Homo sapiens: one gene and its partners. The protein of the gene in region 3 purifies or fractionates together with the protein of the main gene of each other region. This does not show direct contact. Each region holds a gene or a part of one and is shown on either strand. Other genes may lie near its edges.

Region 1 (7,026 bases), on a different chromosome or scaffold from region 3:
ACTTCCTCCATGCTACTGTGGCATGCATCACACTGGGATGCCACCCATGTATTTACATTGGTTCCCCAACTGAAGAAAAGGGACCGCATCCTGTTCTCTCTGTGTCTTCAGCATCCAGCACAGAGCTGAGGTACAGCATGCGGGGGCGGGTGCTGCAGGGGTAATGAGGCCCACCTTCGATGGCAGTGCGGCACACCAGATGAGAGTAGGAAAAGTAGAGGGGCGTATCCAGGCGGAAGTAGGACTCCATGATGCGCCGCACCTTCTCCGTCACGTTGTAGTACAGGTGGGCACTCTGCAGAGGAACTTTGCCTTCTTGCCCCAGCTGCCAAGGAGACAGATGGTCAGCTGCCCTCAACGACTGATATGGTTTGGCTCTGTGTCCCTACCCAAATCTTATCTTGTAGTTCCCATAATTCCCATGTGTTGTGGAAGGGACCTGGTGGGAGATGACTGAATAATGGGGGTGGATCTTTCCCGTGCTGTTCTCATAATACTGAATAAGTCTCACGAGATCTGGTGGCTTTAAAAAAATGGGAGTTTGCGTCCGGGAGGTGAGGGGCGCCTCTGCCCGGCCGCCCCTACTGGGAAGTGAGGAGCCCCTCAGCCCGGCCAGCCACCCCGTCCGGGAGGGAGGCCGGGGGGGGTGGTCGGCCAGCCGCCCCGTCCGGGAGGGAGGTGGGGGGGTCAGCCCCCCGCCCGGCCGGCCGCCCTGTCCGGGAGGTGAGGGGCGCCTCTGCCCGGCCGCCCCTACTGGGAAGTGAGGACCCCTCTGCCCGGCCAGCCGCCCCGTCCGGGAGGGAGGTGGGGGGGTCAGCCCCCTGCCCGGCCAGCCGCCCTATCCAGGAGGTGAGGGGCGCCTCTGCCCGGCTGCCCCTACTGGGAAGTGAGGAGCCCCTCTGCCTGGCCAGCCGCCCCGTCCGGGAGGGTGGTGGGGGGGTCAGCCCCCCGCCCGGCCAGCCGCCCCATCCGGGAGGTGAGGGGCGCTTCTGCCCGGCCGCCCCTACTGGGAAGTGAGGAGCCCCTCTGCCCAGCCACGACCCCGTCTGGGAGGTGTGCCCAGCGGCTCATTGGGGATGGGCCATGATGACGATGGCGGTTTTGTGGAATAGAAAGGCGGGAAGGGTGGGGAAAAAATTGAGAAATCGGATGGTTGCGGGGTCTGTGTGGATAGAAGTAGACATGGGAGACTTTTCATTTTGTTCTGTACTAAGAAAAATTCTTCTGCCTTGGGATCCTGTTGATCTGTGACCTTATCCCCAACCCTGTGCTCTCTGAAACATGTGCTGTGTCCACTCAGGGTTAAATGGATTAAGGGCGGTGCAAGATGTGCTTTGTTAAACAGATGCTTGAAGGCAGCATGCTCGTTAAGAGTCATCACCACTCCCTAATCTTAAGTACCCAGGGACACAAACACTGCGGAAGGCCGCAGGGTCCTCTGCCTAGGAAAACCAGAGACCTTTGTTCACTTGTTTATCTGCTGACCTTCCCTCCACTATTGTCCTGTGACCCTGCCAAATCCCCCTCTGCGAGAAACACCCAAGAATGATCAATAAAAAAAAAATAAATAAATAAATAAATAAATAAATAAAATAATAAAAAATAAAAAATAAAAAAATGGGAGTTTGCCTGCAGAAGTTCTCTCTTTGCCTGCTGCCATCCATGTAAGATGTGACTTGCTCCTCTTTGCCTTCCACCATGATTGTGAGGCTTCCCCAGCCACATGGAACTGTAAGTCCAAGTAAACCTCTTTCTTTTGTAAATTGCCCAGTCTCGGGTACGTCTTTATCAGCAGTGTGAAAACGGACTAACACAACGCCCCTCTTTAGGGGCCAGAGACAATGAGTACCAGGCCCATCCCACGTCCCCACACCCCCACTGAAGCTGCAGCCTCTGCTGCCCACGCCCAATACCCCTACTATATTCCTCTTCCTCCTGTCCTTCTTATCTCTCTTTATGAGCACACTGTGCATCCTGCACAGAAGCACAGCCCTCTAGAATCAGCCTTTCTAAAGAAAGCATTCTCATAGCTTTGGCGAACAGTCTTATCCTGCTCACTTTGTTTTGATTACACTCGGTCTAACAGGATTCAAAAGTGAACCTCACGCAACATAACTCATCCTCGCTTCCTGGCAACAAGAATGTTGGCAGGTGGACCCTCTTCACCTTTCCTGCCACCAGCCCCAACTCTTCCTCAAAGCCTGAGCTTCCCCCTTCCCCACCCCTTTCTCCACACTCTAGAATGCCCAGTGTTGATCTTACCTTGAGGGCTTTGAAGACAGTGACACCATAGAACTTTTCATTGGGAGTATGTGGGGAGGTCTGACCCCGGTAGCCATCTCCTGAGGTTGCTGCCACCTACAAGGCCCAAAACACAAGGTGATGTTAGCCAGGGCAGCTGAGGGCTTGAGAAGAGGTGGTCAACTGTGGCCAGGAAGAGGAAGGCGAAGGCTACCACCCAAGGGGCACTTGGTGGGGGGATGCTGGACCCTTGGGGGAAGGTGCAGTCACTGGGCTTCCCTTACATTGGTCAGTCTCTGCAGCTCCTGACACTCGTGGTCAGAGATTACGCCGTCCATCACCACCCGCTGGGAACCATTCAGGAGTTTGGAGTTCATGGTGAGACTGATGCCTTCATACAGCAGGGGGCCACCTGCAAAGCAATGACAAAACTCTAGCTAAATCTAGCAGCAGCTAGACCAAAGACTCTCCATTGGATATTGCCTCCTCGTCACAAATAGAAATTCCAGCTGTTTCCTTTTCACCAGCAAAATCTCCCGCTAGGTCATTTTCAAAGGTAGAATAGTCCAGAGGACAGAACATAGAGCTGAAAGATGAGATTCCCAGTCCCAGCTCCATGACCAAATAGCTGCTGGCTTTTGGGCCATGACACACTCTTGAGGAAACATCAGAAACACAATCCTAAAACATGAGCTCGGGAACGAGGAAGAACTGACTTTGACTCCTAGATCCTCCATTGATTAGCTGTGTGACCTTGGCAAGTTACTTAACCTCCCTGAGGTTAATTTTAATTAATTAAAATGTTCTCATCTGTCAAACAGCATCTACCTTATATGTTTGATGCCAGTATAATGTTAAGAACAAGGAAGGCAAGTTAAAAGCTTAGTACAATATTTGGCATATGGTAAGTCCTCAAAAGTTTGGCTACCATGGTATCATCATCATTATTCATTTAAAATAAGGATCTTGCAATCTGCATGACTCACCTCTCAGTTATAAGAATCAAGAGAAATAACAAAGTGAAAGTGGTCTGAAAACAAAGGAATGCTGGACAAATTCTTTTCATACGCTAATCTTGTTTAATTAACCACTGTTAATTTAAGCAACTATAGGGCAAAGGTCAACATTTCTCTCTTACAGTTCTCATGGTGTTTCTCTGTGCTAGGGACATACTAATACTAGAGACTCAGTTCAACTCCACTTGATAACTGAGGCCTCAGTGTGTACCAGGAACTGTGCCAGATAGGGTGAGAGATGAATCCTAGAAGACAGTACCTGTTCTCTAACAATTATGCAAATAACTAGCATAAGACAGACCATAAATGCCCTAAGAAGTTCAAAAGAAAGGAGGGGACTCCAATCATCTGGGAGGTTAAGAAAGGCTTTACGGCAGGGCACAGTGGCTTATGCCTATAATCTCAGCACTTTGGGAGGCCAGGGCGGGTGGATCACAAGGTCAGGAGTTTGAGACCAGCCTGGCCAACATGGTGAAACCCTATCTCTACTAAAAATACAAAAAAATTAGCCAGGCATGGTGCCACATGCCTGTAATCCCAGCTACTTGGGAGGCTGAGGCAGGAGAATTCCTTGATGATCCCGGGATGTGGAGGTTGCAGTGAGCCAAGATTGCACCACTGCACTCCAGCCTGGGCAACAGAGCAAGACTCCATCTCCAAAAAAAAAAAAAAGAAAGGCTTTGCAGGGTATATCTCAGATGCCCTCATGGGCAGGGATGGTGGGAAGCGTACTAGGAGAGCCAGGCATAAACACAGACTGGTGGGCAGTGGGCGGGCTCACGGAACAAAGTGCAGTCCTGTGTGAAGAGACGGTGTAAACAGGACAAGAGTAGAACATTCGGTTAAGGGGCAGGCACGGAGGATGGGTCAGAGGCCAGTGTCTGGAAGACTGGCCTAGCTACCTTGTGTGGGCAGGGGCAAGGACAGGCCAGACGGGGAAAGGGTGGGTGCAGATAGGAGGTGCCAGGGCCTGAAGGAAGCCTGAGGCAATGAAAAACGGAAAAGGCTGGGGAGAGAGCTGAGAAGCACTGCAGAGCAGAGCCACAATCAGTAGGCCTTCCCAGCAGCTTGCAGAAAACGGGCACAGGAGGAAGAGGAGCCAAAGGAGGCCTGAAGGCGTTGAGTCTCAGTAAAGGGACGAATGGTGAAAACCGGGAGAAAACAGTTTGGGAGTGGGGAGACAGGATGAGTTAATACCTATGGAAGTGGACAACACTAGTCACTCATGTTTCTGTGACACAGAAGTCTCATTTCTTTCTTTTTTTTTAAAGATGAGGTCTTGCTATATTGCCCAGGCTGGATTCAAACTCCTGGGCTCAAGCGATCCTCCTGCCTCAGCCTGCCAAGTAGCTGGGATTACGGGTGTGCACCACTACATCCTGGAGTCTGATTTCTGAGCCAAAGGCTGATTCTCAGTGCTCTTTCCAGCTGAAAGTCCCGCTGGTGAGTTAGGAAGGATGTCCACTGAACTTGCACCCTAAGGGTGGCTGGCTCATGGTGAGCTCTGCAATGCTGGGGTGGAGCGCTGCCTGGCAAATGTGGGGTGACCTGCCTGGCTCCCTGACAACAGCCAGACATGCCCCTATTTCTGTCCTCTCACCTTCCCGGGTCAGTCTGCTCACATCCAGTGACTCCTTGGTCTTCTCTTCCACAAGGGTCTCGATTTCCTTCATAAGGTTCCCAATCTCCTGGGAGATGCGTACGGCTGTTTCCCGTTCTGACCTATGAGCACAGCCGCTCTGAGGACTGCATTCCAGGGCCAGCCCTGGGCTCCACCCCGACTTCCCAAACTGGACCTGCCCACCCCTTGCCAGGAGTTCACATCTGCCTGGGCTCAGGAAGCCTCAAGTGCTTCATCAGACTGATCCAACCATGCAGTTTCTTCAAGGTCCTCACTTCTGTTTCTCTTGCAATCTCTTGGGAATCACTTCTTCTGGAGTCCATGAATCCTAAGTAGGTCAGGAAGAAATGAAAAAGGTAAGATGATCTACTTAATCTTCCAGGTGTCTCAATGCATAAAATAAGGCCCACAGGAGTAATCCAGCTTATCACCCTCTTCCTTTCAGGAGACAAAATGGGAGGTTTCCACATCTAAGTCCCTTCTAGCTGCCCAGTGTTCCCCTTTCATCTGTCTCTCATCCCTGCCTTGCACAGATCCCAGGCTAGGCTCAGCCTCCAGCAAGTTTTCTCTCAGAATCGCACAGTGTTCCCCTCCTCCCCATTCATCTCTCCTGCTCACTCTTTCCCCGCTCCCTTCCGGCTCCTGTACCCTAGCTCACCGGATCCACAAAGGGAATTCCAAAAACATCATAAGCGAAGAAAAGCAGTTCTTTTTCCAGTAGGCTTCGCTGTCGGTACTCCTTGGCACTCTGAGGGTAAAAAAGCAAACAAATCCCCCAGAACTCAGCCCTGTCTTTTAACCTCTGGGAGTTCCCCTCCCTGGCACCCCACACTGATGCTCCCATGTGACCTGAGGCCTCCTCTCCCTACCAATGCTCTCTGTCTGTTCCCCAGTTTGAGACAAAAGTCTAATTTCTGTGTCCTCTGCCTGGCACAAGCAACAGTACCTCTGAGGTACTGGAATAACCAGGCTTTCCTTAAGGGAAAAAGCCCTGCTCCTCCCCCATCCCAACCCCCATTAGTCTCTAGGACAGATAATCTGATGATTCTCAAAAGTGGAAATATTCTTCAAAGAAGGAGAATTCCTTCTTGACTTCTACAGGAGTCCACAAAGCAGGAAAAGGAATCAGGCATTAGGCAACTGACATGTTATTCATTTGATCTTTTATAGCCACATCTGAGGTTGATACTAGTATGCTCATTCTACAGAGGAAGCATCTGAGGCACAGAGGAGATGTACCACTGTCTAAGGTGACACTACAGGACATGGGAGAGCAGCGACCTACAGTCAAACCCAGGTCTTCTGTTATCTTTTTCTTTTTTTTCATAGCAGAATGTGCATTTGGACAGATAAAGCCGGGTCTTTACAGTCCTAAAGCCCATGTGCTTTCTGCTCTGCCACCTGCCTCCTCTCAGACCCTAACCAGACCACACCCCTCCCTGAGGATAAGCAGCTAAAGGGGAGGGCCTGGCACTCTGGGCTTCCCACATGGACTCCCAGGCAAGGCTTACCCAGGGCAGGGAAACTGAGTACTTTCCGGGGTCACATCTTTCCCTAGGTGCCCTGCTAATCTCCAAGCAGCAGGAGGAGGAAGGAAGAGAAAAAGGAGACATCAGTTGAAATAAAACATGAGGCAGTTCAAGGAGGAATTAAAGGAGTCAATGAATCCTATGTCATCTACTATATTTACCTAAGAGGAAGAGAGACGTTTTCTCTTCAGGAGTTTACATTACTGGCTTCTGTCACCAAATGCTATGTTATCTCATTTAACCCTCTCCAATGACCCTATAAGGCTGCTATGAAGCAAACCCCACTTCCATCTTTATTCATTCGATGCTGATTTACTGAGTGTCAGCCATGTGTCTGGAGCTGTGCCTGCACTGGGTCCAAGCAGGGAACAGATTCCGGTCACCACTGACTGGCCACAAGCCACTGCACAAGTTACTTCATCTCTCAGATGCTAACAGTCCTCATCCCTAAAGTGGGAAGAAGAGTGCCAACCTTGCAGGGTGGCTGTGATGATTAAATGAGATGATGGATACAGCCCACCCCGCACAGAGCTTCGCCTGGACAGCGGCTCAACAAATGTTAGTTGCCTTCTTTCCAAAAGGGGACTTCTAGTTAAAAATGCTAGATTGGCCACGTGGG
Region 2 (7,026 bases), on a different chromosome or scaffold from region 3:
CTGCTTTTATGGTTTCAGCTTACAACAGGTTGATGAACATAGTAAACCTCCTCATCTGAGGCATAGGGAGAGCTGGTCAAGCACTAAAGGAATTTTATCACCTCGAGCCCCAAAGCAGCAACAGCATCGATTAAGTGTAGATGCCAATCTTCAGATTCCTAAAGAGTTAACTCTTGCAAGCAAAAGAGAATTACTTCAAAAGGTAGTTACTATGATTAATCCCATGTAGTCATCATTATCTATCGTCTATTTTTTTGGTATTTTTTTATATTTAAAATATTTTATTTCCTTTTATCACCCCTATACAGACGAGTGAACGTTTAGCATCTGGTGAAATTACACAGGATGACTTCCTTGTTGTTGTGCATCAAATTCGACAGCTATTTCAGTATCAAGAAGGTAAACATAGATGCAATGTACGGGATAGTCCTACAGAAGAAAATAAAGGTGGATTAAAAAAGAAACCTCTCTTATCTGATGCTGAATTAACCTACTATGAACATAAAGCAAAACTGAAAAGGACACAGGTTCAGCATTCATTTCCAAGACTTGATCTCTTAGATCCTGATATTTTTGACTACCCTTTGACTGATGCCTTGTTGTCTGGAATAGAATGTGAGCCATCCAAAAGTAAACATGCAAGTAGGAATAGTGGAGCACAGTTTGACAGAAAAGAACAATTTAGTGAAAGAGCAAGACGTCTTTCTCCTATATCTGGGAGTCGTACTTATGCTGAGAATCTTTCACCCCATGAGGGCCGGAGAAGACATGACGAGCAAGTCTCTGCTAAAGGTAGAAAAAGTTAAATCAGATTATGCCTATTGAATCACACAGCAGTGAAGGGAAAATGAACAAGCTAAGTGGGGATGGATTTTTGTGACTGTTCAGATTACCATTTTTTTTCCCATTTATTTTGTTATGTTTTTTCCCTTTAAGGAAAGGGAAGGGAAGGGAGCTAATATTTCTAAGGCCAGTTGTGTGTCAGGTACTTCATTAGGTATTTTTTATATGTAATTTGATTTAATCCTCACAACAATACAATGAAGTGTATATTCTCCCTATTTTACAGATAGGAAATAAAAGAGAGGTTAAATAACTTGCTCTCAAAATGAAATAATTAGTATGTTGATAGGATGGTAATTTTTTTGTTACTCAGGTGTGTCTGACTCTAGAGGGCATCCTCTTATCTGCTGCTTTACGCTGTCGGTCTCTCCTGCCCCTCTAATGTAGTGAGATAGTTATATATTTGGATAAACATTCATACGAAAATAGAAGATTTTAAGATAACTTTAGTGAAAATAATTTTTTTCCTTTTTAAAAGGTGTGCGAGAAGAGCAGAGATCTCCATTCAATGATCGTTTTCCACTTAAGCGACCTCGATATGAAGATTCAGATAAACCATTTGTAGATAGTCCAGCATCAAGATTCGCCGGCCTGGATACAAATCAGCGACTTACAGCTTTAGCTGAAGACAGACCGTTATTTGATGGACCTAGTAGGCCATCAGTAGCAAGAGATGGCCCAACGAAGATGATTTTTGAAGGACCCAATAAATTAAGCCCTCGAATTGATGGACCTCCCACACCAGCTTCTCTTCGGTTTGATGGGTCACCAGGACAAATGGGGGGAGGAGGCCCTTTGAGATTTGAGGGGCCACAAGGTCAGCTAGGAGGTGGGTGTCCTTTGAGATTTGAAGGTCCTCCAGGACCAGTGGGGACACCTCTGCGGTTTGAGGGCCCAATTGGTCAAGCAGGAGGAGGTGGTTTTCGGTTTGAAGGTTCCCCTGGTCTGAGGTTTGAGGGATCTCCAGGTGGTTTGAGATTTGAGGGACCAGGAGGCCAGCCTGTGGGTGGTCTGAGGTTTGAGGGACATCGTGGTCAACCTGTGGGTGGTCTAAGGTTTGAGGGACCTCATGGTCAGCCTGTGGGTGGACTTAGATTTGATAATCCCCGAGGTCAGCCTGTAGGTGGACTTAGATTTGAGGGGGGTCATGGTCCATCAGGGGCTGCGATTAGGTTTGATGGACCTCATGGTCAGCCAGGAGGTGGAATCAGATTTGAGGGCCCTTTGCTACAGCAAGGGGTTGGAATGAGGTTTGAGGGCCCCCATGGTCAGTCAGTAGCTGGTCTGAGATTTGAGGGACAACATAATCAACTTGGTGGGAACCTTAGGTTTGAGGGTCCACATGGTCAGCCAGGGGTTGGTATCAGGTTTGAAGGCCCTTTAGTCCAACAAGGAGGTGGAATGAGGTTTGAGGGTCCTTCTGTACCAGGAGGTGGCCTGAGAATTGAAGGGCCTCTGGGTCAAGGTGGTCCAAGATTTGAAGGTTGTCATGCTTTAAGGTTTGATGGGCAGCCAGGTCAGCCGTCACTCTTGCCAAGATTTGATGGATTACATGGTCAGCCAGGTCCTAGATTTGAAAGGACTCCTGGTCAGCCAGGCCCTCAGAGGTTTGATGGACCACCTGGACAGCAGGTTCAACCCAGATTTGACGGTGTACCTCAAAGATTTGATGGTCCACAACATCAGCAAGCATCAAGGTTTGATATTCCTCTTGGTCTTCAAGGCACAAGATTTGACAATCATCCTTCACAAAGGCTTGAATCAGTATCTTTCAATCAGACTGGTCCATATAATGATCCACCTGGCAATGCTTTTAATGCCCCATCCCAAGGACTACAGTTCCAAAGACATGAACAAATATTTGATTCACCTCAAGGACCAAATTTTAATGGACCACATGGCCCTGGAAACCAGAGTTTCTCTAATCCACTTAACAGAGCTTCTGGACACTATTTTGATGAAAAAAATCTTCAGAGTTCTCAATTTGGAAACTTTGGCAATATACCTGCTCCAATGACAGTAGGAAATATTCAGGCATCTCAACAGGTAAGTCTGTTATTCTAAAATTGCGTTGTATGCAGATAAGTTAACCATTTTTTAATGTTTCTAGGAGGGTTTTCAGGACATAGTTTATTGTGTAGATTGGAAAGAAGTTTTTAATGTACTCTAAAGCCACATGCTAAGGAAGTGGGATGAGCATCTTTTGGGGATGAAATTTGCAACTTAAATCCAAAATTGATTTTAGCTCTTTCAGGATCTAGGGAAATATCTCAATCAAACCCCCACCTCCAGCTCTGTTTTTTCTTTTTCCTTTTTTTTTGCTTTAAAGCTTTTGAGATATTATACAATTGTGTGTCATAGACCTCTACATTGCAGAACTGTTGAGCCCTGACGTGCTTTAAGGTAGCCATAGAATTGATTGAACTGTTCTTTGACCAAGAATTTCCTTAACCTGAGTTAAATAAGAAGATCAAATTGTGTCCCTGCTTTCACAGTCTACAATTCTTTTTTTTTGGTCCTTTTTTCCTACTTTTTACCACCTTTCCAGTCACTTCAGTTAAACACAATTGTTTGATATTAATGACAACATAGCGAATAGCCTTCCAAATACACTCTGGTTACGAAACATGCACTGTTACCTGTTGGTATTCTTTCACACTTGTTCTGTATACATTTTAAAATGCATACTGAGACAACTTTAAGGCAGTATGTTTACAATTTGTGATTAATTCGGTTGGTTTTGAATGACTACTTTTGCTTGCGTGCTGAAATTCTCCTAGGCTGAGTTTTACTTCTTTTCCAGGTGCAGACATTTTCTTACTATGACAGATTTATTTTATAGTAGTAAGATTGCATGGAAGAAAATACAAAATAAGAAAGATTTTAAAAGTACATTAGGAACATTATTGATAGAAAGTAGTCCTTCTGTTCATCTCTAATGGTACGAAAAAACAGTTGGCTTGCCTAGATTTACTCTACTGTATATCCTTGAAAGAAATGATACTCTTATTGACAGATACTCTAGAATGGTACTTACTTAGTCTTGTTTCTACATTACACAGAATCGGTGGGGTTTTTATTATGTGTACTCACTACCAAAAGTCCACATGTATACTGAACAAGGATTATAAATGGATATTTATTCACATACCAGCAATATGTAGAAGTCCTGCCTCCCTCTGGACTGCAAATGCTGTATTTGTATGCCAGTATAGTTCTTGCTCCATGACTATTCTGTTTTTTAACATTCCCTTTGACATCTTTTACAAGACCTTTTACAAGATTACTTTGTAATGTGGCTATAACCATGTGCAAAGATGATGGCCAAGCAAGATGCTTACCTGCTTGGTAATTCAGAATGCTAATTAGAACAGGCTTTTGATATCTGTGGAAAAGTGGCAAGGGTTAGGAGTTCTGGCCTCAGTTTTGCTCCTAACTAGCCCTTGTGATTGTGTATAGATCATATTGCATTATGTCAGTTCTTCTATTTGTAAAATAAGGGAAAGCACCAGCAAGGTAAAGTGACTTGTGTAAAGTAACACAGCTAGTTACCTTATATTTGCATGGTATCTTACAGTTTCCTTTTTGGGGGGCTACTTTGCCTCTCTAGTAGGTACCTTAAACTTTTCAAAGAAGTTTTAACCCATTCTCAGTAACTTATACCTCTATGAAACAGATAAGGGAAGGTTTTATTGTTCCTGTTTGTAGAAGACCTAGAAGTGAAGTGATGCAGCCAAGTTATCTTTCTAAATCTTTATTTATAAGCCAGGCCTTGTGACATCTATGAATATTTTTATGTAATTAGGATGTTAAAAGTTTTACTTGAAATATAGAAAGCATGTTCTTAAAATTAAGGTTTTTCTTAAAGGTTCTGAGTGGTGTTGCTCAGCCAGTAGCTTTTGGTCAAGGACAACAGTTTTTACCAGTTCATCCACAAAATCCTGGATTTGTTCAGAATCCTTCAGGTATGTACTTTCTGAACTTTGTTTTTCAAAAGACAAATGATTATTGTTTTGTTGAATAGCTAACTTTGTGAATTTTAGGAAATGACAGTTTTGCAAAGGTATATTTAATTTAGAGAAATTTAATCTGGCTGACATATTTTTGTTCCTTTTCTAAGTTTATTTACATTGTGGATGTGTATTCATAATGACCCTATTTACAGCTAGAGATGGTTAGCGGGGACTTGTAGTCCACTAAACAAAGGGAAGGAAACCTATTGGGTGGAAACTGGGAGTGGGAGGGAAGGTATGACATTTGTGTTGAGATAGAATGAAATAAATGACAGACCTTAGAAATCTCAGTGAATACTGAGGATACTGCATTAATAAAGTTGATTAATTTTTATGTTTTTGTGGGCACTCAAATAGCAAAAAGCGGCTTTCCTAGCCAGGTTCACTGATAAGCATCTTTGTTACTATGGGGTGATGCTTAGTACTAGATAAAAGGACTTTTAAAATGGATTTTAGTTTTATTTATTTATTTATTTATGAGGCAGAATCTTGCTCTCTTACCCAGTCTGGAGTGCAGTAGTGTCATATTGCCTCACTGCAGCCTCTGCCTCCGGGGTTCAAGCGATTCTCCTGTCTCAGCCTCCCAAGTAGCTGGGACTACAGGCGTGTGCCACCAGACTGGGCTAACTTTTGTATTTTTACGGGGTTTCACCATCTTGGCCAGGCTGGTCTCGAGCTCCTGACCTCAAGTGATCTGCCCACCTCAGCCTCCCAAAGTGCTGAGATGGCAGGTGTGAGCCACCATGCCCGGCAAAATGAATTTTAGTTTTAATATGTGGTAATAGGGAAGTACATACATTAGTGATACTTGCTTTCATTTCTGAATCATTGAAACAGCTGTTTCAGAAACATGCTTTACTGTAGTATTGAGTTAATCAGTTTACAATAAATTTATGGAGTTTTCCAAAACTTCTGAAGTAATTAGGAAATCCTAGCCAAGCTCTTTTTTATACATTAGTCCTTAAATTGTGTCAAGAAATTCAATGAATTTGGAAGCTTTTAAGTTTTAATTTCTACATGGACAATTATGACTAATTAATATTTGTTATTATTATTATTTTGTTACTATAATGAAAAGAGAAGGAAAGAATTTGGGATCTAAAGCCCAGAAGACCAGGGTTGGAATCTCTACTATGTTACTTTATAAATGCGCAGGCTTTAAGCAAGTATCTCCCCTGAGGTTCAGTTTTTTCCCTCTGTAAACAGCATATGGGCCGGGCATGGTGGCTCACGCCTATAATCCCAGCACTCTGGGAGGACGAGGCAGGTGGATCACAAGGTCAAGAGATGGAGACCATCCTGGCCAACATGGTGAAACCTCGTCTCTACTAAAAATACAAAAATTAGCTGGGTGTGGTGGTGCATGCCTGTAGTCCCAGCTACTCAGGAGACTGAGGCAGGAGAATCGCTTGAACCCAGGAGGTGGAGGTTGCAGTGAGCCAAGATCAGGCCACTGCACTTAGGCCTGGTGACAGAGTGAGACTCCGTCTCAGAAAAAAAACCAAAAACCAAAAAAAAAACATGATATGGTAGTATCAGTATTTGTCTGTTTTGTTGTTGTTTTTTTTTTTTTAGAGAATCAAATGATATAGTATATGCAAAAGTACTTTGTAACTTGTAACTTGTCAAGTGCTATATTAATGTATTTTCCTTTAGAACTCAGTTTTTATTGTTGAGCAGAGGATTTGTTATATTGGGGTTAGTGGCATGAGATGCTCTACAGAAACTACAAATTTTCTTGTTTCTTTCTTTCTTTCTTTTTTTTTTTTTTTTTTTTTTTTTTTTGAGACGAGTCTTGCTCTTGTCACCCAGGCTGGAGTGCAGTGGCATGATCTCAGCTCACTGCAACCTCTGCCTCCTGAATTCAAGCAGTTCTCCCGGGCTCAGCCTCCCCAGTAGCTGGGACTACAGGCACATGCCACTACACCTGGCTAATTTTTGTATTTTTAATAGAGGCAGAGTTTCACCATATTGGTCAGGGTGGCTTGAATCCTGACCTCAGGTGATCCACCTGCCTTGACCTCCCAAAGTGCTGGGACTACAGGTATGAGCCACTGTGCCCAGCCTTGTTTTGCTTTTACAACCTTGGGTTATATGTGTATGTGTACAGGACATAGCAGTGTCACAGAGGAAATCATAATTATTCCCCTTGTTAGGGGGTATTGAATGG
Region 3 (7,026 bases):
AAGACAATTATAAGACAACCTGAAAGTTCAGACGTAACTTACAGATTCTCCCATTAATACAATTTACTAAAGAATTATACAAATGGCACATATGGAGGAGCTAATGGTTTTAGGGACTATTAGCCAAAATAGTCCCTAAATGGATAGAATGACCCAGAGAAAAGCATTTGTTATATGATGGTAAACAGAGCAACAAGATATTATGGGCCCAGGCTACTGTTTTGCTATTTAAAGGAGAGCCAGAATAAGATCTTTTATTTATTTTGTATTTTTTTAATTTTAATTTTTATTTATTTATTTTTTTGAGACGGAGTCTTGCTCTGTCGCCCAGGCTGGAGTGCAGTGGCGCAATCTCGGCTCACTGCAAGCTCCGCCTCCTGGGTTCACGCCATTCTCCTGCCTCAGCCCCCCCCCCCCCCCCCGAGTAGCTGGGACTACAGGCGCCCGCTACCTTGCCCAGCTAATTTCTTGTATTTTTTGTAGAGATGGGGTTTCACCGTGTTAGGCAGGATGGGTTAGCCAGGATGGTCTTGATCTCCTGACCTCGTGATCCGCCCGCCTCGGCCTCCCAAAGTGCTGGGATTACAGGTGTGAGCCACCACACCCGGCCGAGAATAAGATCTTTTTAAAAGAAAAAGAAAAAAGCCTAGTAGGGGAAATATCATTTATATTCCTAAATAAAGGGACCTCAAGTAATCATCAGGTAATCGTTTATGTAATTAATGACTTATCCAATTTACTAGTTACAGAATCTTTACATACCAATTTTACTTGTTACGAGGTAGAATGTCTATAAGACTTATTTAATAAGGGGTCTGGGATCTCAAGGTTAAATCAGAGAACAAAGCTAAATTTAACAAAGGGCAGAAACTAAGACCACAAGTCACTGAATAATGCCATAATTTTATTCTGTTTGTACAGCAATACTAAAATAATCTTTAAGAAATGAGTTTTTGTTAAACAAAGTAACATGCTCAAATTGCAATGACCACAGAAATTAGGAAAAAAGAGGGTAAGTTTTGTTATGAAGTTTCAGTGTGGCTGAAGCTTCAGGCGGTGTGGCTGCAGCAGTAGTTCCATGCACTTAAGATACTAAAAAGTTTCCCACAAGGGGTGTTGGGCACTTTAAACTCTCTTGCAATCCGGTTCTGAACATCAAGTAGAATTACTAATATTATTCAAAGGGAGTTGAGTTTCCATCCTCCTCAGCAGAAACTATAATCACAATATATGGTCTGAGGGAAAGTAAAAAAGAATGGAAGGGTTATTAACAGCAGGACTAAATGTATTTTTAAATTTACACTTTCACTTACATAAATAGGTGAACAGATTCTTTGTTTTCTTCTATTAGCTACAAACCTGTGAAAATGTTTACATAAGTAGACAAAAAATTTACAAGCATAATTGCAGCTACACTAACCTGGTATATCACAATCACTTACTATTTTTGTCCATCCATGAATTCCTATGTTGACACAAACCAATTTTCCACATTGATATGATTCTACCAATATTTAGGATCAGCCATTTTGTCTGGTAGTTGTACTGCTTCCAAGTGGTTGTAGTACGATCCTAATTAAGACCATGGTCCTGGGGTTTGATCTCCATGTGGACTAGTTAGCTTCTCTCTGTTCCAAGGCCACAGCCTGTACACTTAGCCCCAATGGTATACATTTAAACTTTGTGAAAAAACATAATGAATCTGAATACATTTGCTGCCATTACTAAAAATGAAACTCAAAGCACACTCTTTTGTAGTTATCAGTAACCTTCCTTTTAATCAGCTTCATATCACATCAATCCTCCAGCGTAAAAAAAAATACAGAACATACTGAACTTTGTTCTTACTTCATAAAGTGAGAAAATATGCATGATGTTTGCATGAGAAATTATGCAAAATGTATATCACAGGTCATATATAAATAAAGCTCTGTGAGCCTACTGAACAGACTAAAAAAAAGGTTTCCAGTTTGTCAAAGAAATATTTCACGGTATCATTTTTTATTACATGAAGGGTCTTTTCAATTATTACTTTTAATTTTAATGGCATTCAAAAAACAAGAAAATATCAACATCATTCCTCTAATTATCTTTGATACCAAATGTTGCCCAATCTTATCTGCTGTTCATAGTAGCTAGCCAGCTATGTTACATAAAGCTTGGAATAAACAACAGCTCTTAGGGTTTGTTTAAAAAAAAAAAAAACTCACTAATTTTTTTCATTCCCTACCATTCTAAATCACTACAATCATTCTTTAGACAAGGTATTCTCTCAACATTTTACACAACAAGATTATGCTCCACATGATATACAAATATCTGTTGCCAAGCCAGAGAAAATGGATGGCAAAATGACCAAAATCCTATTAGTTCCCTTAAAGTATGGCTTCTCAACCTTTTCATTATCCCTGTCTCCTCCCTCCCTTCAAGAAGTTACTTTTAGACATTTTTTCCCTAATTACCCCTCTTACAATTTTAATATCACAGATATACGATACATACTGTATACCACTATTGGGATGAACTTGTTGGCTGTCAAAATATTCATCATTCTCCCTGACAGGCCTGATATTTTTTTGATGGTTCTAAAATTACAGTAATATCATTCGAGGCTAGGCATGGTGGTTCATGCCTGTTAATCCCACCACTTTGGGAGGCCAAGGCAAGAGGATCCCTTGAGCCCAGGAGTCTAAGACCAGCCTGGGCAACTTAGGAAGATCCCATCTCTACCATAAAAATACATAAATACATACAAAATTCGTGCATTATATGATACTATCAGTAAATGCACAGCAAAGGCCACTTGTTTCAAAGCCTATTTTAAATTATTTCCATTTAGAGAAATATATGAAGGGGGGAAGTTACATTTTGCATTTACAAAATATATCCTATACCTCGGAAAAGAAATACTAGTATGCAAAATCCAATAGCAGATAACCTAATGCATACATTTTTAAAGAAAATATATCATTTTCTGGTTTTATCTAATTATGTTCTCAGTAGTTATTAAAACTGGCTAGTAATCCCTGTAAAAATCCCTTCCTTATATAATGGTAAGGAATTTGGTACTAAAAATATGCCACATAAACCATAGTGGACAATTCACAGGCAACTAAATTAACTGCACCCATAAATAACAAAATAGAGAAGAGTTCTAGCTTCCCTGAACATTTCTATCCATTTTTCTGAATCAATTCTACCTAGCTCATTCTCAACCTGACAGCTTTATTTCAGATGGTTTTCTAGTAAACATAAATAAATCATAAACAATGTTTCTCTGATATTTGTCCAAGAAATTTATTTTCATTAATTGGCTCAACAATTGGCTAGAATACATACATAATGACTGAACGTAAAGCAAAATGATTCATGACATAAAAACTGACTTATCGGATGTCCAGGTCCGTAACTCCTAAGTGAATTCTTTGTTCCAACTACTGCCTCTATACACCTCCATTCTTTTAAAAGTAATTAATCTATTTTTGTGTGTGACAAAGTCTCGTTCTGTCACTCAGGCTGGAGTACAGTGGCCTGATCTCAGCTCACTGCAGCCTCTGCCCCCCAGGTTCAAGCAATTCTCCTGCCTCAGCCTCTGAAGTAGCTGGAATTACAGGTGTGCACTATCATACCTGGCTAAATTTTGTATTTTTAGTAGAGACAGGGGTTTCGCCATGTTGGCCAGGCAGGTCTCAAACTCCTGACCTCAAGTGATCCGCCTACTTCAGCCTCCCAAACTGCTGGAATTATAGGCATGAGCCACCGCACCTGGCCTACACTTCCATTTTAAAGCTGGGTGGTCAGATTACTAAATTTGTGCTATCGGTGATGGCCTGACAGAGCAGAAACTAAATTCCACATTAAGAGTTTCTGACTCCCAAACAAGCAACAAAACATACTACTTCAATGCAAGCAGTGTAAGTTTCCCTAAAGTTCACAGAATTTTTTTGACTTTCCTCTCCAGATCAACAAAACTTTACACATAAAACATAAAAGAATGGTAACTACAATATAGGACCTGTCAGTGTGCTATAATTATAGTAGTCCCCTCTTATCTGAGAGGGATATGTTCCAAGACCCCCAGTGGATGCCTAAAGCCACGGAAAGCAAGGAACCCTAAATATACTATGTTTTTCTTTATATATACCTACGATAAAGTTTAATTTATAAAGTAGGCACTGTAAAAAATAACTAATAAAAGAGAACAATTTAGTCATGCATGACAATGTTTTGGTCCAGGTGGTCAGATTATAATGGAGCTGAAAAATTACTATTGTTTAGCGATCTTAGCCCAATGCATTCCTCACGTTTGGGCTCGTAATGCTGGTGTGAACAAACCTACTGTGCTCTCAGTCATATAAAAGAATAGCACATACAATTATGTACAGTACACAATACTTGACAATAAGCGACTGTGTTACTGGTTTATGTATTTATTATACTATACTTTTTTGTTTTTACACTTTTTTTTTTTTTTTTTTAAATAGAGACGGAGTTTCGACATGTTGGCCAAGCTGGTCTCGAACTCCTGGCCTCAAGCAATCTGCCGCCTCAGGCTCTCAAAGCACTGGGATTACAGGTGTGAACCACCACACCAAGGCCAACTATACCATACTTTTAATCATTATGTTAGAGTGTACTCTTCCTACTTCAAAAAGTTAACTGTAAAACAGCCTCAGGCAAGTCAGTCCTTCACCACGTATTACAGAAGAAGGCAGTTATCCTAGGAGATGACAGCCCATGCATCATACTGCCCCTGAAGACCTTTCCAGTGGGACAAGATGCAGAGATGGAAGACAGTGATATTGATAATCCTGACCCTGTGCAGGCCTAGGTTAATGTGTGTATATCTTAGTTTTTAAAAAAAGCTTAAAAAAAAAAAGACCAGGTTCAGTCGTTCATGCCTGTAATTCCAGCCTCCTTTGGGAGGCTGAGGCAAGAGGATCACATGAGGCCAGGAGTTTGAGACCTGTGCAACACAGTAAGACCTTGTCTCTTCTAAAATAAAATTAATTTTAAAAGTTAAAAAAAAAAATTTAATAGAAAAAAGTTTAGGCCCAGTGTGGTGACTCATGCCTGTAATCCCAGCGCTTTGGGAAGCCAAGGCAAGAGGATCACTTGAGGTCACGAGTTCGAGACCAGCCTGGCCAACATGTGAAACCTCGTCTCTTACTAAAAATACAATAATTAGGCAGGCATGGTGGTGAGTGCCTGTAATCCCAGCTGAGGCAGGAGAACTGCTTGAACCCAGGAGGCAGAGGTTGCGGTGAGCCAAGATCGCGCCACTGCACTTCAGCCTGGGTGACAAAGCGAGACTCCATCTCAAAACAAAACAAAACAAAAAAAAGAAGTAAGTTTACAGTATAAGGATATAAAGAAAATATTTTATATAGTTACACAATGTGTTTGTATTTTAAACTGTTATTATTGAAGAGTCCAAATTTATAAAGTAAAAACGGGCCAGTCACAGTGGCTCACGCCTGTAATCCCAACACTGGTAGGTCAAAGCAAGAAGACAGCTTGAGCCCAGGAGCTGGAGACTAGCTGGGACCTCATCCCTACAAAAAAAATTTGAAATTAGCCAGGCATGGTGGCACATGCCTGTAGTCTCAGCTGCTCTGGAGACTAAGACAGGAGGACTGCTTGAGCCTGGGAGATAAAGGCTGCAGTGAGCCACAACTGCACCACCGCACTCCAGACTGGATGACAGTGAGAAAATAATCAATCAAGTGAAAACATTACAGTAAGCTCATGTATTATTGAAGAAAAAAGTTTAAATAAATTTAGTGTAGCCTGAGTGTACTGTACAGTGTTTATGAAGTCTACAGCAGCATGTCCCAGATCTTCACATTCACCCACCACTCACTTGCTGACTCTCCCAGAGCAACTTCCAATCATGCAGGTTCCTTTCATGAGTGCCCTACACAAGTGTGCCACTTTTTATCTTTTATATCAAGATTTTCACTTACCTTTTCTGTTTAGATATATTAGATACACAAATACCACTGTGTTACAACTGCCTACAGTATTCAGTACAGTAATATGTTGTACAAGTTTGTAGCCTAGGAGCAACAGGCTACACCATATAGCCTACATGTGTAGTAGGCTGTACCTTCCAGGTTTGAAATGCAAAAGCACTCTATGATCACAAATGACAAAAGCACCTAAGATGGACTTCTCAGAACATACCGCCATCGTGAAGCGACACATGATTGTAGAACAGTTTACTGTCATAAAAGTTAGCTAAATATAGTATCTCTCAAACTACCTTATTGTATGTAATATTTTCAGACCTCAGAACCACGGGTAACTGAAACCACAGAAAGTGGAACTGTGGATACGTGTGCACTACTGTATGTAGGTATCTCTCAGCTCCCCTACAGTGTACTCTAAGGGTAGAGACTACCTAAACTTTGTATCCCTCGTTGTTGGCACATAACAGACACTCAACAAATGTATTTTGAACAATTCAATCTTTTTTTTTTGAGACAGGGTCTTGCTGGAGTGCAGTGGCCCGATCTTGGCTCACTGCAACCTCTGCCTCCCAGGTTCAAGCGATTCTCCTGCTTAGCTTACTGATTAGCTGGGATTACAGGCAGGCACCACCATACTCGGCCAATTTTTGTATTTTGATAGAGATGGGGTTTCACCATGTTGGCCAGGCTGGTCTGCAACTCCTGACCTCAAGCGATCTGCCCACCTTGGCCTCCCAAAGTGCTGGGATTACAGGCATGAGCCACCACACTCGCGCTAAACAATTCAACTTTTAAATTATTTAGTTTTGGCCAGAATTTTAAAATCTACAATTACTAAATATTGGGCTAGTAATTACTACACTTGAGTATAAATGCAGTTTAAACTGAATTGATATGCTACTGTGAGACAGAATCACTTTCTTCTCAACTTCAAGTAATAGAGAGGTTTGGAAGATGTTCAAATTCCCCTTCCAGCTGTTCTCAGCTTGGTGACATCCAAAGACCTCTAAGAACTAAAGAGAACCCATAAGGAGTAGCCAGTCCCTTGTGCCTC
Region 4 (7,026 bases), on a different chromosome or scaffold from region 3:
CTAAAACTAATGGACGATGAGCAGGATATTTACAAAGTCTCAGAGTATCTTCCCCACAAATGTAACTGTGAAAAGGAAGACAGTAACTTTCCAGTGGAGAAACCTGGCCAATAGCATTTGAAGTCAGCTAACATGGCCAATAATGGCTCAAACTGACAGCATGTGCCTCTGGATAGTATACTCTGATGACAATATAGGCTGGGCGTGGTGGCTCATGTCTGTAATCCCAACTCTTTGGGAGGCCAAGGTGGGAGGATCGCTTGAGCACAGCAATTCAGGGTTGCAGTGACCTACAATTGCACCATTGCACTCTGGCCTGGGTAACAGGGCAAGACCCGGTTTCAAACCAAAACAAAACAAAAAACAGGAATACAACATGTCTGGTGTATTTCTGACAAGCGTATAACTTGATCCTTATTATGGGGCGGGGAGAACCCAAAACAATTCAAATAGAAAAATAAACTACAAAATAAGTGTAAGTGTTCAAGATTAAAGAAAACTAAGGAAACATGACAACCTGATGCAATGCATGACTCTGGACATTTTTTGTCTGAGTTATAGAGAATATTATTGGAACAAACTACTGAATCTAAATGAGGACTAAGACGAGGTGGCAGTATTGTATCAATGTTAATTTCCTGATCTGGACATCTACAGTTAGGTAATATCCTTACTTTACTGCAGTACGTAGGGCAAAGGGGCATATGCGCCTTGCAACTTACCATGCGGTCTAGTAAAAACATACATACAAGGAGAGAAAAGGACAAGGCAAATGTAGTCAGATGGCAATATTTGGGGACTCTGGGTAAAGGGTATATGGGAATTCCTTGCATTATTCTTGCAACTTAAGTATGAAATTGCCAAAATGAACAAAAACTGAACAAAACAAGCCAGCAGCAAAGGATTGGGTAATACTTAACCAAGCAAACAGGCCAACTTTGCATCTCCAGTTACAAAACATTCTCAAACACCATAAAACATCCTATTAATTTGTACTTTGTGATGACACTACAAATAAATTTAGTTTCCTGGTAATTATTTTATTTTTTCGAGACAGAGTCTTGCCCTGTTACCAGGTTGGAGAGCAATCACAGCCCAATCATGGTTCACTGCAACCTCAAATTCCTGGACTCACGTGATCCTCCCACCTCAGTCTCCTGAGTAGCTGGGACTACAGATGCACGCCATCACATCTGACTAATTTTTCTAATTTTTTGGAGAGATGGGGTCTCACTATGTCACCCAGGCTGCTCTCCAACTCCTGGGCTCAAGTCATCCTTCCGCGTCGGTGTCCCAAACTGTTGGGCTTACAGACGAGAGCCATCTCGCACAGCCCCTGATAATTATTTTGAGAGTCTGCTAAGATGGTGAGAGTCACGTCATGTGGAATGTGACTTTTGCTGTATAAGCAGTTTTTAAAAAAAATGTTAAAGTGACAATTCTGTTTTGGCCAAGTGCTGTTTAAAAGGGATGTCATTTTCTCCAAGTCCAAGCAATAGGAGGAGAACTGAGATTACATGAGATATGCTTTCTGGAATTTTAAAGCATTTTGAATTCACACATTACAGCAGTCCCTCTATTTTCAGTTAAAATCTTGATAAAACCCACTGATAAAGTAGTTGAAAATAATTCAAGAAAACTTACCGACCTGCCCTATCAGATATCAAAATGTACTGTAAATTTCTAGAATAAAACTGATTACAAGAAGCAAAACAAAACAACAAATGAGACACAAAAGAGCTAGTATTGCATGGCTCCATTTTACATGAAGTTCTAGAATGGGTAAAACTAATATCTGGTGAAGTAATCACAACAGCGACTTTTATTTTTGCAGGGGCTGGGAGGGGAGACGCACTGGGAGGGGCAGAAGTGATCTTTCTGATGACAAATGTTTCTTTTCTTTTTTTTTGAGACACAGTCTTGCACTGTTGCCCAGGCTGGAGTGCAGCAGCATGATCTCAGCTCACTGCAACCTCCGCCTCCCAGGCTCAAGTGATTCTCCTGCCTCAGTCTCCCGAGTAGCTGGGATTACAGGCATCCGCCACCATGCCCAGCTAATTTTTGTATTTTTAGTAGACGGGGTTTCACCATGTTGGCCAGGCTGGTCTCGAACTCCTGACCTCAGGTGATCTGCCCGCCTCAGCCTCCCAAAGTGCTGGGATTACAGGCATGAGCCACCACGCCCAGCCTAAATGTTTCATGTTTTCATCCCTACCTACCTCACACCACATGCAAAATACATTCTAAATTAATTAAACCTCCAAATGTAAAATGTAAAAATAAAACCATAAATATTATTCTTTCTATATATAACAGAGTTATACATATAGTTTTTTTTTTTTTTGAGACGAAGCTTCACTCGTCGCCCAGGCTGGAGTGCAGTGGCGTGATCTCGGCTCACTGCAACCTCTGCTTCCCGGGTTCAAGCGATTTTCCTGCCTCAGCCTCTCAAGTAGCTAGGATTACAGGCGCTTGCCACCACACCCAGATAATTTTTGTATTTTTAGTAGAGACAGGGTTTCACCATGTTGGCCAGGCTGGTGTTGAACTCCTGACCTCAGGTGATCCACCTGCATCGTGGGATTACGGACGTGTGCCACCGCACCTGGCCTTACAGTCATATTTTTAATAATTTAAAAGCAAAGAAGTCCTTTTAAAGCGTAACATAAAATCTAGAAGCCTAGTGATCAAAATACCACAAGTCGAATCAGATTAAATTGAATGACAGATTAAAACAATAGAAACATTTTATATGAGTCTTTATAACTCAATAAGACAAACAACCCAGCACAGAAATCGGCAAAGGGCATGAAAAGGCCATTCAGACGACACAAATGTCCAATTATCAGAAGAGTATAATCTGTGAAGAAATGCAAACGAAAATCTCACCTGCAGAAAAATGCAGATAAATACAATGAAATACTTTTCTTCTATATAACAGGCAACAAGGTAACAGGCAAACAAGGTAAGTTTGATGTTGAGTTTAGTGAAATAGGCACCGTCACCCATTGTTGGTAGGGTACAACCTGGGACAGCTTTTTGTTTTTGTTTTTGTTTTTGAGACAGCCTCACTCTGTCGCCAAGGCTGGAGTGCAGTGGCACTATCTTGGCTCAATGCAACCTCAGTCTCCCAGGTTCAAGCTATCTTCTTGCCTTAGCCACCTGAGTAGCTTGGATTACAGGCGCCCACCACCACACCTGGCAAATTTCTGTATTTTTAGTAGACGTGGGGTTTTGCCATGTTGGCCAGGCTGATCTTTTGATCCGCCCACCTCAGCCTCCCAAAGTGCTAGGATTACAGGCGTGAGCCACTGAACTTGGCCGGGACAGCTATTTGTAAACTAGCTATGTGAAAATAAAGGGCCATATCCTTGGAGTCTAGAATTCTCCTTTCACTAAGTTATCAAAAATTATATTACTTTGACCACACAAAGGTATTTATCTCTGGTTCGTGCAAACACTGAATGTTGGAAGTACCGAGTGATAATTGGAAATAAAAATCTCCAAACGTCTAGTAATAAAAAGACTGATGGGCTAAATTGTGTATTTATTCATACAGAAGATTATTAGCCTGTTAAAAAACAGTGAGATTTTGTATAGCAAGATCACGGGTTTTTTTAATGAAAAAAATATGCATACAGGTGTGTGCACATACCTATATATTTACTTTTTTCCCCCTCTCACTCTGTGCCCAAGCTGGAGTGTAGAAGCACACTCATGGCTCACCGCAGCCTTGACCTCTTGGGCTTAAGCAATCCTCCTACCTTGGCCTCCCTAGTAGCTGGGACTACAGGTGTGTGCCACCATGCCCAGCTCATTGACTTTTATTTAACTTTTTGTTTTTCTAGACACAGGGTCTTGCTCTGTAACCCAGGCCTAAGTTTACTTTTAAACATTGTACATACACACACAGTCTGGAGAAGTATGCCTAACTTTTAGTAGTGGGCTGTCCCGACTGTGAACAACTTCTGCTTTTTACTCCCATGCACGTATTTTAAAACCTGCCGGGCGCAGTGGCTCACAACTGAAATCTAAACGTTTTGTGGGGCTGAGGTGAAAGCACTGCTTGAGGCCAGGAGTTCAAGGCTGCAGCGAACTATGACTGCGCGACTACCCTCCATCTGAGTGACAGAGTGAGAACCCACCTCAAAAACAAAACAAAAACAGCAACAAAAGCCTGTAGTACAAGTATTTGCTTTTATCAGAAGAAAAAGGAAAACAAAAAAGGAGATCCACAGGCTCTGTTTTTTGCTTTTATTATTTCTTTCTCCATTGATTTTCCAGGACTCTTTGCCTTGGCAGAAGTATACTTGAGTAAAGGCAAAAACACGCAATGTATCATGAGCCACAGAAGTGACTTCATTCTGCTGTTCTCCCAGCACTTACCCCAAACACTGTGGCTGACACTGGGGCCTGACTCTCAGATATTTAAACCCAGTACTTCACCACCAAGTATTAGTTATTATCTCATTTAGTTTTGGGCCCTGAGAACCAGGCCTTCAATTACAGGTTGGGCAACCCTATCTGAAACTGAAACCTTCTGAGCACTGACATATTGCCACAAGTAGAAAATTCCACACCTGATGTGTGGAATTAGTGAAAGTTTTGTTTCATGCACAAAATTATAAAAAATATGGTATTAAATTATCTTCAGGTGTATAAGAAACAAATTTCTTGTTTAGATTTGGGCCCCAATCCCAAGATTATCTCATTATGCGTACGAAAATACCGCACAAAATCCAAAAAATGAAACCCTTCTGGTCCCAAGCATTTCAGATAGGGAAAACTCTACATGAACCAAGAGAACATTCGGTCTACAAGCCCAGCTTCAGCTGATTCTTTTTTTTAGGGGGATGGAGTCTTGCGGTCGCCCAGGCTGGAGTGCAGTGGTGCGATCTGGGCTCAGTGCAACCTCCACCTCCTGGGTTCAGGCAATTCTCCTGCCTCAGCCTCCTGAGTAGCTGGGATTACAGGAGCCCGCCACCACACCTGGCTAATTTTTATATTTTTAGTAGAGACGGGGTTTCATCATGTTGGCCAGGCTGGTCTCGAACTCCTGACCTCAGGTGACCAGTCCGCCTCAACCTCCCAAAGTGCTGGCATTACAGGTGTGAGCCACGGCGCCCTGCCTCAGCTGATTCTTTCTTAAGCCAATAGTTGAGTGTTACCAAGTTAAACCATTGAAGGGGAAAGAAAGATAAACAAGACACAGCCCTAGTCCTCATCAATCTGCTCTTGACAGAAGGCAAGATGACATAAATATTAAACCAAGGGGTAAGGAACTATGCCACGGGAGGACAGAGGACCCAAGGAGACGAGTTGCTATTGGTGGGATGGATCAGTTGTCTTTTGAGGAACTAGGTCTCTAAGGCAGACAGATGGGGAAGGGTGGGCGGAGCGAAGTCACAGAGAACCAGGAGAGTAAATCACGTGTTTGGGGCCTGACTAAAGCACAGGGTGTGGGGGATGGGCAAGAGAGATTTCGGTAAGATGGTGAGAGTCATGTCATGTGGAATGTGACTTTTACTGTATAAGCTGCTTTTAAAAGAAATGTTAAAGTGACAATTCTGTTTTTGCCAAGTGCTGTTTATAAGGGATGTTATTTTCTCCAAGTCCAAGCAATAGGAGGCTCAGGCAGTCCTACTTTTTGGACTCCATGTTGGAGTTCAGTGGTGCCATGATAGCTCAGTGCAACCCTGAACTCCTGGGTTCAAATGATCCTCCCGCCTTAGCCTCCCAAGTAGCTAGGAAAACAGGCGTGCCTCGACGCCTAGGTACTTTTTTTTTTTGGCAGTGGATAGAGGCAGCCCAGGCTGGTCTCAAACTCCTAGACTGAAACCATTCTCCTGCCTTGGGTTCCCAAAGTGTTGGGATTACAGGTGAGAGACACTGTGCCCCGCCCCCACCCCCCTTTTTTTTAAGAGAGACTGGGTCTTGCTCTGTCACCCAGGCTGGAGTGCAGTGGTGCAATCATTAGGTCATTGCAGGCTTGAGCTCCTGGGCTCAAGTGATCCCCCTCCTAAAACTCCCAAGTAGCTGGGATCACAGGTGCATGCCATCATGCCTGGCTAATTTCTTTTTGGTGGGGATGGGGGTCTCCCTATGTTGCCCAAGCTGATCTCAACCTCCTGGGGTCAAGTAATCCTTCCGGTTCAGCCTCCCAAGCAGCTGGGACCACAGATGCATGCCACCACACCGGGCCTTTAAAAGTTTTTTTGTAGAGCTGGGTTTTGCTATGTTGCCCAGGCTGGTCTTGAACTCCCAGGCTCATGTGATCCTCCTACCACAGCCCCGAGTCGCCTGGAATTACAGGCACACGCCACTGTGACTGACTCCCAAAAGACTCCTTATTTAAGGACCGCTGACAATCTACAGAGGAAAATGAATAAAGGACAAATACTCCTTCCATCCTCCATTGGAATTCCCAGATACCAAGAAAACAAAACACAGTAGAGAGATCTTGAAAGAAAATGCAAAGCTTCGCTGAAGGCTCCCAGTTCAGAGTGGTTCACAAGTCCAACACACAGACAAGTAAACGAGGCACATTAGCAATGTATTCGTTTTGAAGAAAGCACTTAACATGAAACTTGCTTATGAAATCCTCCATACCTTTGCTAGACCTCTTTGATGTTTTCTTGTTTCCCTCGGAGGTAATTTCAATTTCGTCAGGATTACCACCTTCATCTTCAATTGCCTAAAAAGAAGGGAAAAGTAAAGTTGATCCAAAAAGTCAGCTCACACACTGCTTTCAGAGAGCTCTCAGGTGACAAGGAAACTGTATTTTTAAGATCAAAAAGCTGCTGCCGCCCTCACCACCCAGGACCTGTGGCCCATCCACTCATCTGTTATCTCGCTCTACACTGGAGACCGACTGACGCCACCAGTTCTTAGCTGGGTGGTCCCAGGCAGGTTTACTTAGGTGCTCAGTTTTTGCTTCTTCCTCTGGAACATGCGGCTAATAATAATACAGTACTTACCCTGGAAGGCTGTTGTGAGGACTCTACTAGCCATGAAAAGGAAGCACTC

What was found.
Region 1: the proteins of CPSF6 (region 3) and P3H1 purify together in Homo sapiens (affinity purification with mass spectrometry; 2 studies listed by BioGRID and IntAct, with this or other methods). This does not show direct contact.
Region 2: the proteins of CPSF6 (region 3) and PCF11 fractionate together in Homo sapiens (co-fractionation; 2 studies listed by BioGRID). This does not show direct contact.
Region 4: the proteins of CPSF6 (region 3) and SAFB purify together in Homo sapiens (affinity purification with mass spectrometry; 2 studies listed by BioGRID and IntAct, with this or other methods). This does not show direct contact.

What each region holds. Positions count from the first base shown.
Region 1 is NC_000001.11:42,750,012-42,757,037, forward strand, and holds part of P3H1 (prolyl 3-hydroxylase 1 isoform 1 precursor), read right to left. Parts: intron 6,445-7,026; coding exon of another isoform or gene 6,390-6,444; intron 5,627-6,389; coding exon 5,537-5,626; intron 5,207-5,536; coding exon 5,154-5,206; coding exon of another isoform or gene 5,086-5,153; intron 4,980-5,085; coding exon 4,858-4,979; intron 2,654-4,857; coding exon 2,526-2,653; intron 2,359-2,525; coding exon 2,263-2,358; intron 326-2,262; coding exon 175-325; intron 1-174. UniProt on the Homo sapiens protein: Basement membrane-associated chondroitin sulfate proteoglycan (CSPG). Has prolyl 3-hydroxylase activity catalyzing the post-translational formation of 3-hydroxyproline in -Xaa-Pro-Gly- sequences in collagens, especially types IV and V.
Region 2 is NC_000011.10:83,167,107-83,174,132, forward strand, and holds part of PCF11 (pre-mRNA cleavage complex 2 protein Pcf11), read left to right. Parts: intron 1-18; coding exon 19-202; intron 203-308; coding exon 309-792; intron 793-1,321; coding exon 1,322-2,889; intron 2,890-4,711; coding exon 4,712-4,808; intron 4,809-7,026. UniProt on the Homo sapiens protein: Component of pre-mRNA cleavage complex II, which promotes transcription termination by RNA polymerase II.
Region 3 is NC_000012.12:69,242,549-69,249,574, reverse strand, and holds part of CPSF6 (cleavage and polyadenylation specificity factor subunit 6), read right to left. Parts: intron 1-7,026. UniProt on the Homo sapiens protein: Component of the cleavage factor Im (CFIm) complex that functions as an activator of the pre-mRNA 3'-end cleavage and polyadenylation processing required for the maturation of pre-mRNA into functional mRNAs.
Region 4 is NC_000019.10:5,626,073-5,633,098, reverse strand, and holds part of SAFB (scaffold attachment factor B1), read right to left. Parts: intron 6,695-7,026; coding exon 6,610-6,694; intron 1-6,609. UniProt on the Homo sapiens protein: Binds to scaffold/matrix attachment region (S/MAR) DNA and forms a molecular assembly point to allow the formation of a 'transcriptosomal' complex (consisting of SR proteins and RNA polymerase II) coupling transcription and RNA processing.